3 linked regions of the Homo sapiens genome follow. The protein of the gene in region 1 purifies or fractionates together with the protein of each later gene. This does not show direct contact. Each region holds a gene or a part of one and is shown in the gene's direction. Other genes may lie near its edges.

What was found.
Region 2: the proteins of GEMIN2 (region 1) and SMYD2 purify together in Homo sapiens (co-immunoprecipitation; one large-scale study listed by IntAct). This does not show direct contact.
Region 3: the proteins of GEMIN2 (region 1) and IQUB purify together in Homo sapiens (co-immunoprecipitation; one large-scale study listed by IntAct). This does not show direct contact.

Annotation. Positions count from the first base shown.
Region 1 is NC_000014.9:39,127,765-39,131,419, forward strand, and holds part of GEMIN2 (gem-associated protein 2), read left to right. Parts: intron 1-515; coding exon 516-584; intron 585-3,655. UniProt on the Homo sapiens protein: The SMN complex catalyzes the assembly of small nuclear ribonucleoproteins (snRNPs), the building blocks of the spliceosome, and thereby plays an important role in the splicing of cellular pre-mRNAs.
Region 2 is NC_000001.11:214,315,549-214,319,203, forward strand, and holds part of SMYD2 (N-lysine methyltransferase SMYD2), read left to right. Parts: intron 1-2,530; coding exon 2,531-2,591; intron 2,592-3,310; coding exon 3,311-3,435; intron 3,436-3,655. UniProt on the Homo sapiens protein: Protein-lysine N-methyltransferase that methylates both histones and non-histone proteins, including p53/TP53 and RB1. Specifically trimethylates histone H3 'Lys-4' (H3K4me3) in vivo. The activity requires interaction with HSP90alpha.
Region 3 is NC_000007.14:123,524,566-123,528,220, reverse strand, and holds part of IQUB (IQ motif and ubiquitin-like domain-containing protein), read left to right. Parts: intron 1-3,655. UniProt on the Homo sapiens protein: Adapter protein that anchors the radial spoke 1 (RS1) complex to the A microtubule of outer doublet microtubules in axonemes. The triple radial spokes (RS1, RS2 and RS3) are required to modulate beating of the sperm flagellum.

The DNA of each region.
Region 1 (3,655 bases):
ATTTGTTTTAAAAGCCTCACTGGGGCTAGGCGCGGTGCCTCACACCTGTGATCGCAGCACTTTGGGAGGCCGAGGAGGGCGGATCACCTGAGGTCGAGAGTTCGACCAGCCTGACCAACATGCAGAAACCCTGTCTCTACTAAAAATACAAAAATTAGCCGGACGTGGTGGTGCACGCATGTAATCTCAGCTACTCAGGGGGCTGAGGCAGGAGAATTGCTTGAACCCGGGAGGCGGAGGTTGCAGTGAGCCAAGATCGCACCAGTGCGCTCCAGCCTGGGCAACAGAGTGAGACTCTATCTCAAAAAAAAAAAAAAAAAAAAAAAAAAGCCTCATTGGATAAGCCGCCTAATCAAACTAATTAGAGTCAAACAAATTAGCTTTCTTTGAAAGTTTAAAGAATGAGGCCATTTTTAACATCAGAGTTGCTTTCTAAATAAACTTAATGAAACTCATGTTGAATTCATGTTTTATTATTAATACAACTCTTCTCCACCCCCTCTTTTTTTTTTTAGGCAACAGTAACTAGTGTCTTGGAATATCTGAGTAATTGGTTTGGAGAAAGAGACTTTACTCCAGAATTGGTAGTATTGCATGTTTTTCTTTTCATAATGTAGGCAAAAATTAGACGTTTTGGGTCAACTGTGGGCCACATATACAATGGTGCTCCTATAGGATTATAATACTGTATTTTTACTGCACATTTTCTTTTTTTCTTTTCTTTTTTTTTTTTTTTTTTTTTTTGAGACAAGGTCTCGCTCTGTTACCCAGGCTGGGGTGCAGTATTACAATCATAGCTCACTGCAACCTTGATCTCCCCAGCTCAAGCAATCCTCCTGCCTCAATCTCCTGAGTAGCTGGGACTACAGGCGCATGCAGCCACGCCCAGTTTTTTTTGTTTTTTGTTTTTTGTTTTTTTTATTAGAGACAAGGTCTCACTGTGTTGTCCAGGCTGGTCTTGAACTGAGTCCAAATGATCCTGCCTCCTCACCCTCCCAAAATGCTGGGAATTACAGGCATGAGCCACCATGTGTGCGGCCTTTTGTGTTTTTTAAATAGAGACGAGGTCTCACCATGTTCCCCAGGCTGATCTCAGACTCCTAGGCTCAAGTGTTCTTCCCACCTTGGCCTCCCAAACTGTTTGGATTACAAGCATGAGCCACTGAGCCCGGCTCCTTTCCAGTATTTAAATATGTTTAGATCTGGCCAGGCACAGTGGCTCATGCCTGTAATCCCAACTACTAGGGAGGGCTGAGGCAGGAGGATCACCTAAGGCCAGGGAGGTTGAGGCTGCAGTGAGCCATGATTGTGCCACTGCACTGCACTCTAGCCTGAGTGACAGAGTGAGACCCTATCTTAAGAAATAAATATATGGTTTTTTTGGATGCACAAATGTTTACCATTATGTTACAGTTGCCTACAGTATTCAGTATAGTAATGTGCTATATAGGTTTGTAGCCTAGGAGCAATTGGCTATGCAATATAGTCTAGGTATAGTAGACTATACCATCTAGGTTTGTGTAAGTATACTCTATGATGTTCATCCAGGGTCAAAAATCACCTAACAATGCATTTCTCAGAATATATCTCCCTTCATTAAGTGATGCATGACTGTACTTGATGTGATGCTACGGTATTTATTTATTTTTTATTTATTTGTTTGTTTTGACATGGAATCTCCCTCTGTTGCCCAGGCTGGAGTGCAGTAGCGCGATCTCGGCTCACTGCAGCCTCCACCTCCTGGTTTCAAGTGATTCTCCTGCCTCAGCCTCCCAAGTAGCTGGGATTACAGGCACCTGCCACCACACCCAGCTAATTTTTGTATTTTTGTAGAGACAGGCTTTCTCCATGTTGGCCAGACTGGTCTTGAACTCATGACCTCAGGTGATCTGCCCGCCTCCACCTCTCAAAGTGTTGGAATTACAGGCGTGAGCCACTGCACCCAGCCAGTATTTATATTTATATTTATATTTGTATATGTGTGTGTGTGTGTATATACATATGTATAATCTGAACTATACTTGTTTGTAGTCAAATAAGAAACACTAGAATGTAAATCAACATACTACTTCCTTCATTGAGAAAGTCTTGGAGAAAAAAAGTCAATGAAAGAGTTGATGTATATCCTGGTACAAGGTACAAACTCCTTATCTCATTGCAGACAAGTTTGTTTTTTTTTTTTTTTTTTTTTTTTGAGATGGAGTCTCACTCTGTCACCCAGGCTGCAGTGCAGTGGTGCCATCTCGGCTCACTGCAACCTCTGCCTCCCAAGTTCAAGCAATCCTCCTGCCTCAGCCTCCTGAGTAGCTGGGACAAGTGTAGAGAATATTTAATTTAAATTAAATATTTAATTTAAATGCTAGCTTTACATAGTAAATGTATCCCTTAAAATTTGAGTCAAGTTGAAACATATAATTTTTTTTTATAGAAAAAGAATTCCACAATTTGTAAAAGAAACCTGGATTTGAATCTTTTTCTGTAAGAAAAAGTCTTAACTATTGATTTGAGTTTGCCTGAGGAACCCATTTAGTGTGTTGTATAAATTGCTATTTAAATTTTGTCCTAATATTTTTTAGGTTTCCCCGAAGTGATATGTTGCTTAGAATAAACAAAGTTGTATATACTACTGGTGGAAATACAAATTTGGTATAACCTTTCCAGGATACAATCTGGTGATCATATCTGAAAAACCTTGATGAATATACATACCCTTTGTCACCATTTTACTTGCAATACTTAATAAACTTTCCCCATGTTGTTAAATGAGATTAAACAAGGGAATGTTATTAAATACTCTAAACAAGACACTTAACATTCCCTTGTTAATCCCATTTAACTACAAGGGATGGCTGAGTGGGGTGGCTCACTCCTGTAATCCCAGCACTTAGGGAGGCCGAGGTGGGCGGATCACTTGAGGTCAGGAGTTCGACACCAGCCTGGCCAACATGGTGAAACCCCCATCTCTACTAAAAATACAAAAATTAGCTGAGCATGGTGGCGGGCGCCTGTTGTCCCAGCTACTCAGGAGGCTGAGGCAGGAGGATTGCTTGAACCTGGGAGGCAGAGGTTGCAGTGAGCCGAGATGGCACCACTGCACTCCAGCCTGGATGACAGAACGAGACTCCATCTCGAAAAAAAAAAGAAAAAGGACAAAAACAACATGGTAAACATTTTATTATGTATTATAAATAAAAAAGATGGCTACAAGATGATATTACAACTGATGAAATTGTATTGAAAAAAGGTTGTACAGCCGGGCATGGTGGCTCACGCCTGTAATCTCACCACTTTGGGAGGCTAAGGCAGGCAGATCACTTGAGGTCAGGAGTTCGAGACCAGCCTGAACAACATGGTGAAACCCGGTCTCTATTAAAAATACAAAATTAGCCGGGTGTGGTGGTACATGCCTGTAATTCCAGGTACTCAGGATGCTGAGACAGGAGAATTGCTTGAACCCGGGAGGCAGAGGTTGCAGTGAGCCGAGATCGCGCCATTGCACTCCAGCCTGGGCAACAAGAGTGAAACTCTGTCTCAAAAAAAAAGAAAGTTGTACATACGAATAGGAAAAACAAGAACATTTTTAAAGTGAATCAAAGTTTGATCTGGAATGTTGGGACTGCAGGTTTTTTCTTGTGCTTGTGGTATTCTTCACAGT
Region 2 (3,655 bases), on another chromosome or scaffold:
TTACGCTCAAAGAGTGAGGAAGCTGAGAGACAGAAGAAAGAAGCTGACAAATCCAGTTTATTAGAAACATTTACTAGGACTTATGAACTGAAGCCATGTCTATGTCTTGGGCGGCAGCAAGACAAGATGGTGGATCCCTGCACCATTACCCACCAGAGCCAGGGCTTATATACCATAGGGAAGAAATGTGTACAGCAGTTACAAGGAAAGGCAAGGATGCTATGCAAATCTGCCTGAGAGCAAGATTTGTGCTCAAGATTGTATTGACCTAAGGCAGGATTTAAGGTAGCCATAGACAAAGTAGAAATCTTAGAAGCATTCCCAGAGCAGGAGTTAACCAGAAATCAACATGGTATATCAGCATCCAAGATGAAATTGCTTTAGCCACCGTACTGACTGTTCTCCGCCTGGTCTGGTTCATTCTTGCTGATTGCATAATAATTAGACACCTAATCTTCGAAGGGCCAAACTAAAAAGAGGACAGGAAAATGCCATAGAACTTGTCCTTGTGATCCAATGAAATAGGCAGTGTGGGGCTTAGAAGGCATATGTCCAGGCTGTGGAGGTCTTGCTCCTCAGTGCTGTCAGAGAAGTTGGTGGCAGGGCCTCTGGACTATAAATCTTTTAAAGCTGAAATTTTGGCTGGGCATAGTGGCTCATACCTGTAATCTTAGCACTTTGGGAGGCCAAGGCAGAAGGATTGTTTGAATCCAGGAGTTCGAGACCAGCCTTGGCAACAAAGTGAGACCCATTCTCTATAATAAATTTTAAAAATTAAAAAAATTTCCCAGGTGTGGTGGTATACACCTGTGGTCCCAGCTATTCTGGAGGCTGAGGCAGGAGAATTACTGGAACCCGGAACTTCAAGGCTGCAGTGAGCTGTGATTGTGCCACCATACTCCATCCAGCCTGAGCAACAAAGTAAATGAGACTCTGTCTCTAAAAATGAAAAAAAAAAACAAACTGAAATTTCATCCACTTCTCCTGTATACCTACCAGCCCTCCTCCACCCTTAAAATTTTTCTATTTTTTAATCTAAGCCAAATGTGATGGAAATGATTAGCATGTATCTGTCCCCAGACCAAGTTAGGATCCTGGGCTGTGTAAACAGAAGTAGAACATTTCAAAACTCTGAGGTCATCCTTCAGCTATGTTCAGCTTGGGTCAGGTGCTTGCCGAAATGCTACCTCGCCAGCCAGCCGAGAGTAACAAAGGCCATTCATGGGTTGCCTGTAGAGTGAGACCAAAACATCAGAATTGTTTCCCTGCAGGAGGTTAACTTTCGGATCCTTAATAACAGTTATTTTTAAATTTATGCAGAGTATTTGGGCTGAATAAGTCAGAGGGAATAGGATGACTGGGTGTGAGGTATCAGAGTCAGTAAGTCATCAGATGGGATCTCCGCACATCTTGGGAGGATTGGGTGGCCAAGCTGGTGTTTTATTATTTTGTTCCCCTGAATTATTGATGATATTTATAGTGATATGTTAAGAATTCAGAAGAGGCTGGTAGACTTTCCTGAATGAAAAGCTTTCCCAAGCGAGATGACTTATAAATCTTATAAAAATGCATCCCGTGAATGGAAGATTTCTGCTCCAAAAAAGAACTATTGAAATATTTCGGCACCAGGAGGGTAGTCTGAATGCAAAGATGAGTTTATACAAGCTTCATTCAAGTTTTATTATAATTACTACTACTACTAATAGTGTATTAAATGAAAGTTACCTGCCCATCTTTTCATCTCTATAGGACTTGATGATTAAAAAAACAGACCATTTGTATTCTAGTAGCTTGCAAAGGATTAGGGGAGACAGGCTACCAAACTACCAAGGGGAGGCTTAACATGTTAACTAGGGAGGTGAGCGTGCCCTGCTAGACCACCTGTATCCCCAAATTGAATAGCCACATTACAAAGACATGGCCTTGGGCCAGCTCCTGAGCTCTGCCTTTGAACTCTTGTCAACACCAAGTTTATTCATGTTCTCAAAGCCTAGCGGGTTTACTATTGTTAGCTCCTCTTGGGGTGTCTAGAACAAAGCCAGCAACGCGTTTAAAGTGAATCTGGGCTCACAGATACAACCAAAAGTGTTCTTTTTGAAACACAGAATTTGAGATCATTTTAGCCTATGCTTAAAGAAAGTGTAAAATGGATGGGGGGTTTGATTTTGTTCCTTTTTAGAAGGAGAAATAATAAATAGGATGGTTTGTCTGTAGACCCAGTCCTTTTAAGTAAGGACCCTAAAAAGTTGTTTTCCGGCCCTGTTCTTTCCCGTAACAGGTATTTCTGAGCCTACTGTGTGCATAGTATTATCAGGGTGTTAGGTACACGGTAGACATTTAAAAAAGCGCTTTAGAAGAGTCTTTGGATTTGGCTGGTGGAGAGCCCTAGTGGTGGAGTCCTTGAGTAGCTTGTTTTACTTCCTTAAGAATTGTTACTTTTTCTTTATGTTGATGTAAAAGTGAAAGTGCCACTTTATTACACTGGTTGTTAAAAAATCTGTATCTGTGTGATTTCTTCCCCAATTGCTAGAAAATCCACCCAGAGAGAACACCTTCGGAAAAATTGTTAGCTGTGAAGGAGTTTGAATCACGTAAGTCTTTCTGTGACCAGCCGCGCAGTTCTCTCAGCCACAGATTTCACATGGGTTGGGCAGGATTGAAGCGAGGACGGGCTAGTTTGTGCTCAGAGGAGTAGTGATTTCTTTGATTACTAGTTTTTATTTTTACTCTTGTGCTGTTTCGAAAAGCACTTTTAGCTTTTTTCTTCTGAGTTGACAGGATTGTTAGGAAATAATTAAAGGAGGTAGGAGCTCCCAAAATGAATTATTGCACCCTGAGCTACCTCCTGCTGGCCCTCTTGGCATGCTGAATACTTTTGGATCTTTGCTGAATTGCGTCCTCTAAATAGCTGATGTTCTTACTGAAAGCCGTGAAATCAGGGGTTGTCCAGTTGTTTGACCACGGCCCAGATTCCCGGGCCAATTGGGGGGCCCTTGACTAGGCTGAGGCTGGTTATGAGTCATTGCTACCCATCCCTGACCTCATTGCTAACAGTCAGTCGAAATCTCACGTCCCAAGTGACTTCTAGTCATCAGAGGGAGAGAAGGAAGAAATGGCTTGCTTTCTTTCCTTAGGGTTTGTCAGTTAAACCAAGTAATGGGGAAGAATGTTCTCTGGGGGTTCAACATGTTAGTTTTGGGTTTTTTTTTTTTCGCCCGTTCCTTTCCTCTGTATCATTTACAGCAAAAATAGGATGTAGCTAGAAATCCCACGCTTTCTACTGGGTGAATAATGGATTATTTATCCACAGATCTGGATAAGTTAGACAATGAGAAGAAGGATTTGATTCAGAGTGACATAGCTGCTCTCCATCACTTTTACTCCAAGCATCTCGGATTCCCTGACAATGATAGCCTCGTAGTACTCTTTGCACAGGTAAGGACGCTGGCAGCAGGTAACACTCAGTCTGGCCTTTCCCTCTCCAAGGCCCTCTCCCTAGCAAGCACTCAGTGAAGATGAATGCAAATAGAATGATGGCATCTTCCTGACAACGAAGCTCTGAGCCAATTGGACCGTGTGTTGCCATAGCCTTGCTCAGTGACCTTGAGCAGATCAAGGTCCCCTCTGCTGGCCCTCATTGATGGGTGGAGTGTAG
Region 3 (3,655 bases), on another chromosome or scaffold:
GTGCCAGACAGTGGGCGCAGGTCAGTGGGTGCGTGCACCGTGCGCGAGCCGAAGCAGGGCGAGGCATTGCCTCACTTGGGAAGCGCAAGGGGTCAGGGAGTTCCCTTTCCTAGTCAAAGAAAGTGGTGACAGACGGCACCTGGAAAATCGGGTCACTCCCACCCGAATACTGCGCTTTTCCGACAGGCTTAAAAAACGGCGGACCAGGAGATTATATCCCCCACCCGGCTCGGAGGGTCCTACGCCCACGGAGTCTCGCTAATTGCTAGCACAGCAGTCTGAGATCAAACTGCAAGGCGGCAGCGAGGCTGGGGGAGGGGCGCCCGCCATTGCTCAGGCTTGCTTAGGTAAACAAAGCAGCTGGGAAGCTCCAACTGGGTGGAGCCCACCACAGCTCAAGGAGGCCTGCCTGCCTCTGTAGGCTCCACCTCTGGGGGCAGGGCACAGACAAACAAAAAGACAGCAGTAAACTCTGCAGACTTAAATGTCCCTGTCTGACAGCTTTGAAGAGAGCAGTGGTTCTCCCAGCACGCAGCTGGAGATCTGAGAACGGGCAGACTGCCTCCTCAAGTGGGTCCCTGGCCCCTGACCCCCGAGCAGCCTAACTGGGAGGCACCCCCCAGCAGGGGCAGACTGACACCTCACACGGCCGGGTGCTCCAACAGACCTGCAGCCGAGGGTCCTGTCTGTTTGAAGGAAAACTAACAAACAGAAAGGACATCCACACCAAAAACCCATCTGTACATCACCATCATCAAAGACCAAAAGTAGATAAAACCACAAAGATGGGGAAAAAACAGAGCAGAAAAACTGGAAACTCTAAAAAGCAGAGTGCCTCTCCTCCTCCAGAGGAACGCAGTTCCTCACCAGCAACAGAACAAAGCTGGATGGAGAATGACTTTGACGAGCTGAGAGAAGAAGGCTTCAGACGATCAAATTACTCCGAGCTACAGGAGGAAATTCAAACCAAAGGCAAAGAAGTTGAAAACTTTGAAAAAAATTTGGAAGAATGTATAACTACAATAACCAATAAAGAAAAGTGCTTAAAGGAGCTGATGGAGCTGAAAACCAAGGCTCGAGAACTACGTGAAGAATGCAGAAGCCTCAGGAGCCGATGTGATCAACTGGAAGGAAGGGTATCAGCGATGGAAGATGAAATGAATGAAATGAAGGCTACAAGCCAGAAGAAAGTGGAGGCCAATATTCAACATTCTTAAAGAAAAGAATTTTCAACCCAGAATTTCATATCCAGCCAAACTAAGCTTCATAAGTGAAGGAGAAATAAAATACTTTACAGACAAGCAAATGCTGAGAGATTTTGTCACCACCAGGCCTGCCCTAAAAGAGCGCCTGAAGAAGCGCTAAACGTGGAAAGGAACAACTGGTACCAGCCGCTGCAAAATCACGCCAAAATGTAAAGACCATCGAGACTAGGAAGAAACTGCATCAACTAATGAGCAAAATAACCAGCTAACATCATAATGACAGGATCAAATTCACACATAACAATATTAACTTTAAATGTAAATGGACTAAATGCTCCAATTAAAAGACACAGACTGGCAAATTGGATAAAGAGTCAAGACCCATCAGTGTGCTGTATTCAGGAAACCCATCTCACGTGCAGAGACACACATAGGCTCAAAATAAAAGGATGGAGGAAGATCTACCAAGCAAATGGAAAACAAAAAAAGGCAGGGGTTGCAATCCTAGTCTCTGATAAAACAGACCTTAAACCAACAAAGATCAAAAGATACAAAGAAGGCCATTACTTAATGGTAAAGGGATCAATTCAACAAGAAGAGCTAACCTAAATATATATGCACCCAATACAGGAGCACCCAGATTCATAAAGCAAGTCCTGAGTGACCTACAAAGAGACTTAGACTCCCACACATTAATAATGGGAGACTTTAACACTCCACTGTCAACATTAGACAGATCAACGAGACAGAAAGTCAACAAAGATACCCAGGAATTGAACTCAGCTCTGCACCAAGTGGACTTAATAGACATCTACAGAACTCTACACCCCAAATCAACAGAATATACATTTTTTTCAGCACCACACCACACCTATTCCAAAATTGACCACATACTTGGAAGTAAAGCTCTCCTCAGCAAATGTAAAAGAACAGAAATTATAACAAACTATCTCTCAGACCACAGTGCAATCAAACTAGAACTCAGGATTAAGAATCTCACTCAAAACCGCTTAACTACATGGAAACTGAACAACATGCTCCTGAATGACTACTGGGTACATAACAAAATGAAGGCAGAAATAAAGATGTTCTTTGAAACCAACGAGAACAAAGACACAACATACCAGCATCTCTGGGATGCATTCAAAGCAGTGTGTAGAGGGAAATTTATAGCACTAAATGCCCACAAGAGAAAGCAGGAAAGATCCAAAATTGACATCCTAACATCACAATTAAAAGAACTAGAAAAGCAAGAGCAAACACTTTCAAAAGCTAGCAGAAGGCAAGAAATAACTAAAATCAGAGCAGAAATGAAGGAAACAGAGACACAAAAAACCCTTCAAAAAATTAATGAATCCAGGAGCTGGTTTTTTGAAAGGATGAACAAAATTGATAGACCGCTAGCAAGACGAATAAAGAAAAAAAGAGAGAAGAATCAAATAGACGCAATAAAAAATGATAAAGGGGATATCACCACCTATCCCACAGAAATACAAACTACCATCAGAGAATACTACAAACACCTCTACGCAAATAAACTAGAAAATCTAGAAGAAATGGATAAATTCCTGGACACATACACTCTCCCAAGACTAAACCAGGAAGAAGTTGAACCTCTGAATAGACCAATAACAGGAGCTGAAATTGTGGCAATAATCAATAGCTTACCAACCAAAAAGAGTCCAGGACCAGATGGATTCACAGCCGAATTCTACCAGAGGTACAAGGAGGAAATGGTACCATTCCTTCTGAAACTATTCCGATCAATAGAAAAAGAGGGAATCCTCCCTAACTCATTTTATGAGGCCAGCATCATCCTGATACCAAAGCTGGGCAGAGACACAACCAAAAAAGAGAATTTTAGACCAATATCCTTGATGAACATTGATGCAAAAATCTTCAATAAAATACTGGCAAACCGAATCCAGCAGCACATGAAAAAGCTTATCCAACATGATCAAGTGGGCTTCATCCCTGGGATACAAGCCTGGTTCAATATACGCAAATCAATAAATGTAATCCAGCATATAAACAGAACCAAAGACAAAAACCACATGATTATCTCAATAGATGCAGAAAAGGCCTTTGACAAAATTCAACAACACTTCATGCTAAAAACTCTCAATAAATTAGGTATTGATGGGACGTATCTGAAAATAATAAGAGCTATCTATGACAAACCCACAGCCAATATCATACTGAATGGGCCAAAACTGGAAGCATTCCCTTTGAAAACTGGCACAAGACAGGGATGCCCTCTCTCACCACTCCTATTCAACATAGTGTTGGAAGTTCTGGCCAGGGCAATTAGGCAGGAGAAGGAAATAAAGGCTATTCAATTAGGAAAAGAGGAAGTCAAATTGTCCCTGTTTGCAGACGACATGATTGTATATCTAGAAAACCCCATTGTCTCAGCCCAAACTCTCCTTAAGCTGATAAGCAATTTCAGC